2 separate regions of the Homo sapiens genome follow, and region 2 is linked to region 1. Evidence: fine-mapped expression QTL. Tissue or cell type: monocytes after LPS. Region 1 holds a variant in brackets; the other region holds the start of a gene. All regions are shown on one strand. Distances are between the middles of the regions.

What was found. PIP is the estimated chance that this variant, and not a neighbour inherited with it, causes the effect. A credible set is the group of variants that fine-mapping cannot tell apart.
Region 2: CEP89 starts here. The variant in region 1 is the best candidate, but not a certain one, in a credible set for the expression of CEP89 in monocytes after LPS (Fairfax 2014, PIP 0.77).

What each region holds. Positions count from the first base shown.
Region 1 is chr19:32,876,766-32,881,151 of GRCh38, reverse strand. CEP89 (centrosomal protein 89) reads left to right here. Exons shown (of 19, transcript NM_032816.5): 19 at 1,774-4,386. The coding sequence ends at 1,990. Among named protein-coding and RNA genes, the nearest start is that of SLC7A9, 9.2 kb to the right of the region's middle. The variant T/G (reference allele first, on the strand shown) is at 2,403.
Region 2 is chr19:32,969,665-32,973,993 of GRCh38, reverse strand. It overlaps CEP89 (centrosomal protein 89), which reads left to right and starts at 2,036. Exons shown (of 19, transcript NM_032816.5): 1 at 2,036-2,158. The coding sequence starts at 2,120. FAAP24 (FA core complex associated protein 24) reads right to left here and starts at 1,752. Exons shown (of 5, transcript NM_152266.5): 1 at 1,648-1,752; 2 at 692-810; 3 at 432-568. The coding sequence starts at 797. RefSeq lists enhancers at 1,579-1,628, 2,009-2,228 and a silencer at 1,769-1,898.

The sequences.
Region 1 (4,386 bases):
TTTAAACTCTTCATTCACTGCAGTCAGGGCCTGGGGATCCCCACTCATGGGGAACAGTGTAGACTCACTCCAGATCCATTTGAGAGCAGGCCGGTGGCTCTAGTCCCCAGGTGATGCCTGGCCTTTCAGAACAGGTTTCCTTTGAAGATCTGCAGGTCTCCCACCCACCCCTCCTTTCTTTGAGGGTCCTTCACATCCTCCACTTACCTACCTTCACAGTGCCTCTAGTAGGAAGAGAAACTTGGACAAGAGTGGGTCCTGAGATTTTCTGTCACTCTTGATCTGCACGATCTCTCAGTCTACAAACATCCAGGGTTTGGCATTGACTTTTGTCCTCAAAGCAACTGATACTTTGTCTGCCTCTTTGGTTTCAGTTTAGGCTTCATTTTTTCTGCCCTTAGAGACTGCCTGTTCTTTCGAGTTCAGCCATACATTTAAACATGATTGCTATAATTTACCAAATATCTTCAGAAAACCAAAGTCTGGGGAATTTTTTTTTTTTTTTTTTTTTTAAATACAAGGTCTTGCTCTGTTGCCTGGGCTAAAGTACAGTGGCACAATCTCAGCTCACTGCAGCCTCAAATTTCTGGGCTCAAGTCATCCTTCTGCCTCAGCCTCCCGAGTAGCTGGAAATACAGGTGCATGCCACCACGTGGGCCCAGCTAATTTTTAAGTTTTTTGTAGAGATGAGGTCTCACATGTTGCCCAGGCTGGGGCTTTTTTAGACATAGTTTAATTAAGTTGTTCTTACCACACAGTGGGCATCAGGGGCCTTGGAAGGAAGGAACGTTCACAAGAAAAGTGACTCTGGCCAAGTGGGCACATCACTGGCCTCCCTGAACTTCAGTGTCCTGCTCTTTAAACCGTGGTGCGAAGTCCACCTGCAAATCCAGTTTCCAACATTTTCCAGAACCATCTGGCAGTGTCCGGGAAGGAGCTGGCCTCTCCAGCCTGGCCATGCTCCCCGATGGGGCTAAGCACCTTGTGAGGTGTGGCTCGTGTCCTGGTCTATTCCCAGTGGACTGTGGCCCTGTGAGGATGTGGCCACCTTCATCTGTCCTGTCTCCCCAGCACACCACAGGGCACTGCATCCTGGTTCTGGAAACGCTGCCCTGTGGCTCTTTCCAACCTCACATGCCTCGGCCCCTCAGGGCCTCCCCATCCCGGCACATGGGCCAGGCCAATCTTCTCCATCTTGGCAATGAGTCTTATCTCCTCAGGTCCCCCACCTCACCCCCTGACTCGCTCTTAGCTCTGGGCTGTATGGAGCGGAAGACCTGTGGAAGGTCACTGAGTGCTGGCCAGGTCACAGTGGACAAGCAGACGGGACACAGGAGGGGCTGTGTGGGTGCCTGTGGCCAGGCCATCGTGCTAGAGCGTCTGGCTGGCCAAGGCCAGCCCTGCAGTTCCTGCAGTTCCTTATTCGACACGCCCAAGTTCATTCTTGAGAGAAAACAGGGATTGCACTGGCGCCAAAGTCAAGGGCAGAACATAGAGGGAAGAGAAATGCCTGTGCCGTCCTGCTGCTCCCCATTCCCAGGGCACTGGCCGCTTCATTCCACACTGAGCCCCAGCCTGGGCTGTCCTGCTGCTCCCCATTCCCAGGGCACCAGCTGCTTCATTCCACACTGAGCGCTTGCTTCAGAACCCAGGCACCGAGGGCTCTGTTCCCTGCTGATAGCGTTCTTCTGTTTTGAGTTCTTGCTACTTTGGGATTCATATGGGCTCTATATTATTTTTAAAATTGTGCCATTTTAAACTTATTTCCCTCAGAGAAATGGAAGGTGAACTTGAAGTTATTTGGGAATCTACCTTCAGGGAAAACCGAAGAATCCGAGAACTTCTCCAGGACACACTCACGAGGACAGGCGTGCAGGACAACCCCAGAGCTCTGGTTGCCCCCAGCCTCAATGGCGTCTCTCAGGCAGACCTGCTGGACGGCTGCGATGTCTGCTCCTATGACCTGAAGTCTCATGCCCCCACCTGCTAGAATCTGCGGGAGCCCGTGGTGTAGCCTCCTCTGGCCTGAAAGGTCTGCCTCACACAGGCCTTCCCTGCAGGGCAGCCCATGGTGGCAGCCGGAGGTGCGTAAGCCCACTGAACGCTGCAGGGCAGGGAAGAAATAAATGGTCTCATAGTTTAATCCATTGATAACATTTTGCTTTATTTTTTAATTTTTTTTTTTTTTTAGAGCTAGGGTCTCACTCTGTTGCCCATGCTGGAGTACAGTGGTGCAATCATAGCTCACGGCAGCCTCAAACATGTTTGAGATCCTTCTGCTTCAGCCTCCTGAGTAGCTGGGACCTCAGGTGTGCACTGTCAGGCCCAGCTAATTTTTTTCTTTTTTGTTGAGATGAGGTCTTGCTATGTTGCTCAGGCTGGTCTTGAACTCCTGGCCTCAA[T/G]CTGTCCTCCTGCCTTGGCCTCCCAAAGTGCGGGAATGACACGTGTGAGCCACTGCGCCTGGCCCATTGTGCTTTATTTTAATAACGTGCTGCTGAAATCTGTTTTAGCCAGGGCATGTTCTCTGGCCACATTGCCACTGAGATGAGTTCTATGACACCCACTGCTCTGGTGAGTAGGTGGCCTGCTGAGCAGGCCTGCCTTCCAGCTCCTAGATCTGCAGCTGGGAAGTGCTGGAAGGGTTGGGCGGGCAGCTGAGCCCTCGTGCCATGTGTCAGATGGGGAAGTGTCACCCGAGGAGCCAGGCCATGGCACCGGCCCTGATGATAGCTGTGCGTGAGCTCTGGGGGCCTTTTCTTGTTTGGTCAAAAAAAACAAGGTGCTGCTGCTGTTCATGCCCTCTAAGTTGTACAAACCTTTTCTGCCCTCTCCCCTAGCCCTTCTCTATCCTCCTGAGCAAGTACTTTATTCTCTTTTGTTTAGTTGTTACTTTTGTTTGTTTGTTTTGAGACAGGGTCTCACTCTGTTACCCAGGCTGGAATGCAGTGGTGCAATCACCACAGCCTTGACCTCCAGGCTCAAGCGATCCTCCCATCCCAGCCTCCTGAGTAGGTGAGATGACAGGTATACACTAACATGCCTGGCTAATTTTGTAAAAAAAAAATTTTTGTAGGCCAGCCATGGTGGCTCACTCCTGTAATCCCAGCACTTTGGGAGGTCGAGGCAGGCGGATCACCCGAGGCCAGGAGTTCGAGACCAGCCTGGCCAACATGGTGAAACCCCATCTCTACTAAAAATACAAAAATTAGCTGGGCATGGTGGTGGGTGCCTGTAATCCCAGCTACTTGGGAGGCTGAGGCAGGAGAATTGCTTGAACCTGGAAGGCGGAGGTTGCAGTGAACCAAGATCACGCCATTATACCCCAGCCTGGGCAGCCTGGGCAACAAGAGCGAGACTTTGTCTCAAAAAAAAAAAATTTTTTTTTTGGTAGAGATGGGGTCTTGCTATGTTGCCCAAGCTGGTCTCAAACGTCTAGCTTCAAGCAATCCTCCTGCCTAGGCCTCCCAAAGTGTTGGGATTATAGGTATGAGCCACCGCGCCTGGTCTGGGAAGGTAATTGATTCTGGAGCCACACAGCTCCCCACCCATGTAATGAGAGCCCTGGCTTTGAGCTAAGATAGAGTCCCTGCCCCACTGCCACCACCAAGAAGCATACCAGGGGGCCATGGTTCTGTCCCATGTGTGTTAGATGACGTGCCACCTCCTCAGGAAAATTACCCCAGCCGCTCAGGACCATTCAGTCCCAGGCATGCTGGAGGGACTTGGGGACATTGGGCTACAAAGGACCCTAACTGTGGGACTCAGGGGTGGCACCCTGCAGCATCTCCTTTTCAGAGCCCCTCGCAGTGAAGTCCTGCCTTGTTTCAGGTGGGAAGGAGGCCCCAGTACTGGTCCTTGGTCATGTGTAGAAGTTCTACGTGTGATCTTTGATTGCCAGACGGAAGGGTGAGATAGAAAATCATAGTTCTTTTATGACTCTATAAGCTTGTTCAACAGTTGAATCATTGTAATTTAATTTTATTTTACAAGCGGTAGAAAGACTCACTGGGATTGAAAACTGTGTATCATCTCCCTAGGAGATGACCTAACAAATAACTGTGATGCTATTTCAAAGGCATTTACGGCCGCTCTGCAGCCTCCTGTAGACAGGCTGACAGGCGGCGGCAGCCCAGCGTGGCTGCGCGGGGCAGGAGTGCTTGTCAGCAGGAATGCTGCTCCCGCCATCGTGACCTAGAGAACCACTGTTGACATCCCTGTCTTTCTGCCTTTTATGCAAACATTTTATTCTTTTGAGAAGTGTCCACTTTTGTTCTTATGTTTCTGCTTTAAGTTTTTCACACAGTGCAAACATACTTTGCAAGTATGGGGACTCCTGGATGGCACTGTGACCAGGGCAAGGGCAGGTGTCCCACAGACACTATCTTC
Region 2 (4,329 bases), 93 kb before region 1:
ACTTCGTGCCTGACCTGGCCAATGATTTTAAATAAATGATACCAAGGGATGGAGGGAAGGGTGGGGTGAGACAAATCAATGTTCGAGTTTCTTTAATCCAATGCTTACATTTCTTTTTTGTTTTTGTTTTTTGTTTTTTGAGTTGGAATCTCACTCTGTCGCCCAGGCTGGAGTGCAGTGGCGTGATCTCGGCTCACTACAGCCTCTGCCTCCCAGGCTCAAGCAATTCTCCCGTCTCAGCCTCCCTAGTAGCTGGGATTACAGGCGTGCGCCACCATACTCAGCTAATTTTTGTATTTTTAGCAGAGACAGGGTTTCACCATGTTGGCCAGGCTGGTCTCCAACTACTGACCTCAGGTGATCCACCCGCCTTGGCCTCCCAAAGTGCTGGGATTACTGGCGTGAGCCACAGCACCCAGCCTAATACTTACATTTCTAACCCGAACAAGCCTCTTTCTGTAGCCATTTCCTGCCACCAAATCAGCTTCGGTGACATAAAGAATGCAGCATCTGTTCGACAGATAAAAGTCTGGTGTCAAGCCATCCTCGAAAATGAGCTTAATTTTCCCTTAAAATACAGAGAAGAAAATGAGTTCCATAAGCTTTGGATGAAAAGATGGCAATAATAGGCAGATTTTTTTTTTTTAATATGTCAGGGGAGGAAAGGGCTGGCAGAGGGCAGGCCACCGACCTTGCATCTCCTGCGCCAGCTGTGACCCGCGCCATTTCTCATTGGCCACAATATGCCCCAAAGGCACGTGCACGGGGCCCGTATCATCAGGGGGGTTCTTTTCCATGGATGGTCTCCACCTAAGGAGGGAAAAGCCAGGCGGCACTTGAGCAGGCTCTCCTGCACACGGCCCTGCATTCCACTCCAAGCCAGGGCCTCTGGGGCAGGATCCCCTCTGCAAACTGAATTATTTGTCAAAGAACTGTCAAATAAGATTCCCTTTATAATTACTAATAAGAAAACACAGGCTGGGCGCGGTGGCTCACACCTGTAATCCCAGCACTTTGGGAGGCCGAGCGAGGCGGGTGGATCACAAGGTCAGGAGTTCAAGACCAGCCTGGCCAAGATAGTGAAACCGCGTCTCTACTAAAAATACAAAAAAATTAGCCGGGCTTGGTGGTGGGCACCTGTAATCCCAGCCACTTGGGAGGCTGAGGCAGAGAATTGCTTGAATCCGGAAGGCGGAGGTTGCAGTGAGCCGAGATCGCGCCACTGCACTCCAGCCTGGGCGACAGAGCAAGACTCGTCTCAAAAAAAAAAAAAAAAAAGAAAAGAAAAAGAAAACACAAAGGCCTGAATGAAGGCCAGGGTGGCTGGAGACGGGATGTGTGGTGGTGGAGGTGGTAATGGCATTGGATTCCAATAAGGCCAGAGGCACGATCAGATTTAAGTTTTAAAAGAATCCTGGGCTGGGCATGGTAGCTCACGTCTGTAATCCCAACATTGGGCAAGGCTGAGGCGTGAGGATCGCTTGTGCCCAGGAGTTCGAGACCAGCCTGAGCAATACAGCGAGATCCCGTTTGCCAATTATTTGTGGCGAAATAAATTCTCTAAGAACCAGGAGATTCCTGTCCTGGTGTCCGCGTCCTTCATTTTCATCACGTGCCTAGCCCCTGATACCCCAGCTGGATCCGCACCGTAGCTTCTCAGTCCAGTCCAAGGCCCGAATACAGCCGGCAGGAACCCCACCGTCCCAGTCTAGAGATCATGTTACTGGTGGCCGCGCCACCTTCCGGGTTCACGCCCTCGGTGCTCGCCCAGTCCTTCATCCAGCCCGCCCTCCGCCTCCCGCAGCGCCGGATAGGCTGTGGCGTCAGAAATGGACGTCTAACCTGACCAATAAGAGAACGGATAAGGGCGGACGTTTCCGCCCTGGCGGGGATTTGAACGGTACCCACTGGTTGCCAAGAACGACCGGTGTGGAAGTAACCTTAGCTCTGATTGGTCGAGGGCCGAGCTGAGCCAATGGCCGACGTGGTTGCTGCAAAGTCCATTGCGAAGAGAAAGCGTGAGGGCTGGGCCTGCGGCGGGCTTTAGGGAGTGGTCCCTGGCTGTGGATAGATCTGCTGATGAGTCCAGGCCCCGGTCCATTCTCCTCGCGCTGCAAGGATGCTCCTGGGATTTCGGAGAGGCCGCAGGAGTCATTTCGTAAGTAGATGCTCGCCCGCCGCGCGTGGGGCTCTGTGGGGCCGGGAATTAGGGGTAAAGTGTTGGGGCGGGTTGGGGTTTGGCCTGAGATCCAGTCAAGGGGGCGGCACAAGAGAAAGTGGTTTTCAGTTGAGGAAGCCTTGATTTTTCGTGTTCTAAACTTTTTTTTTTTTTTTTAAGAAACAGGGTCTCGCTCTGTCGCCCAGGCTAGAGTGCAGTGGTGCGATCATAGCTCACTGCATCCTCGAACTCCTGGGCTCAAGCGATCTTCCCACCCCAGCCTCCCGAGGAGCTGAGACTACAGGCGCGCGCCACTACTCCCGGCTAATTGTTCAATATTTTTGTGGAAACAGGGATCTTGCTATGTTCCTATGGTGGTCTTGAGCTCCTTAGCCTCCTAAAGTGTTGGTATCACAGGCGTGAGCCACTGTGCCCGGCGTTAACAATCTTCTGCCCCAGGGTCGGCCACAGTTGGACAGGAGCACCCTGCCTCCCCTGTAGCATTCGTCCCCGTGCCCGGAGTTAACTCCTGGACGACGTACACCTGCTGCACTGCTGGATATAGCCATTCTTCATTTTTCCCTCCTCCACCCACCATGTACACCCCATCAGCAAGTCCCATCCGATATACCCACTACATACATCTGCCAGCTGTTCCCATCTCCACCCACACCCCGGCCTCCAGCATCTGTCTGGACTGCTGCGGCAGATCCTCACTGGTTTCTCTGCTTCCACTCTCGCCCTTCCCCTAGGTCCATTCTCCACGTAGCAGCCAAGGGGATTCTTATATTTATTTATTATTTAATTTAGTTTTAGAGACAGGGTCTTGTCCTGATGCCCAGGCTGGAGTACAGTGGCATGATCATAGCTCACTGTGGCTTCAACCTCTTGGGTTCAAGTGATCCTCCTGCCTCAGGCTCCTGAGTAGCTGGGACTACAGGTGTGCACCACCACACCTAGGTATTTTTTATTTATTTTATTTTTTGCCTCACACTCTGCCAAGTCTCAATGCCTGGCTAATTTTAAAAATTATTTTGTAGAGGCCACGTGAGGTGGCTCTCACCTGTAATCCAGCACTTTGGGAGGCTGAGGCAGGCGGATCATTTGAGGTCAGGAGTTCAAGATTAGCCTGGCCAACATGGTGAAAACCCATCTCTACTAAAAATACAAAAATTAGCGGGCGTGGTGGTGGGCACCTGTAATCCCAGCTACACGGGAGGTTGAGGTGGGATAATCGCTTAAACCCGAGAGGCAGAGGTTGCAGTGAGCCAAGATTGTGCCACTGCACTCCAGCCTGGGCGACAAAGCTAGACTCTGCCTCAAAAAAACATAATTTTTTTTTTTTGGTAGAGATGGGGTCTGGGTATGCTGCCCAGGCTGGTCTTAAACCTTGGCTCAAGCAATCCTCTCACCTTGGCCTCCAGAGTGTTGGGATTACAGGTGTGAGCCACTGCATCTGGCTTGAGTTTTTATTTAAAGCCCCAAACATTAATGAGTCCCTGCTGTGTGCTGATACCCACAACTGACAGCTTATGGCCACACGGTCTGTAGGATAGACAAGCCCATAAATAATTCTGTACACAATGGTAAAACAAGAACTGCTGTTGATGTGTGTACCAGAAGGGCAGTGACGTCAGCCTGGAGAGTTGGCCTGGGCCTGGCAGGGAGTAAGGAAAGAATTCTGGGTGCAGAAGACAGCAAATACCAAGGCCTAAAAAAGAATGAATTATTTGCTGTTTGGGAAATGGAAGCCCACGCTGAGTGCTGAAGCACAGGGACTCTGCGCAGGAAGAGGAGGGGAAGCAAGAAATGAATTTGGGTCCTTGTGATGGCAGTGGCTGCTGCCATCACGCTGTGTGGCTAGGGCTGCACACTTCATGGAGCCGGTGGAAGCCCCGTCCCTCATGAGTTGGGACTGGAGCCGCAAACCGCTGCTGCAGACCCAGGCCTTCTGCTCTATGGAGCAGGCAGGAGCCCCACCCTCTTGGGCAGGGCTACAGCCACCCAAACTGCAGCTGTGGATCCGAGCCTCTCTGCTCCTGGGGGAGCCGGGAACAGGCAGAATTTGCCCTTCCAGATGCAGCTGCAGCCGCGCAGGCAGGAGCCAGGGACAAGTGGGAGCCCTGCCTCTTCCAAGTTGGCGGGGTGGGAGCTCCCAGGTGCAGCTGTGG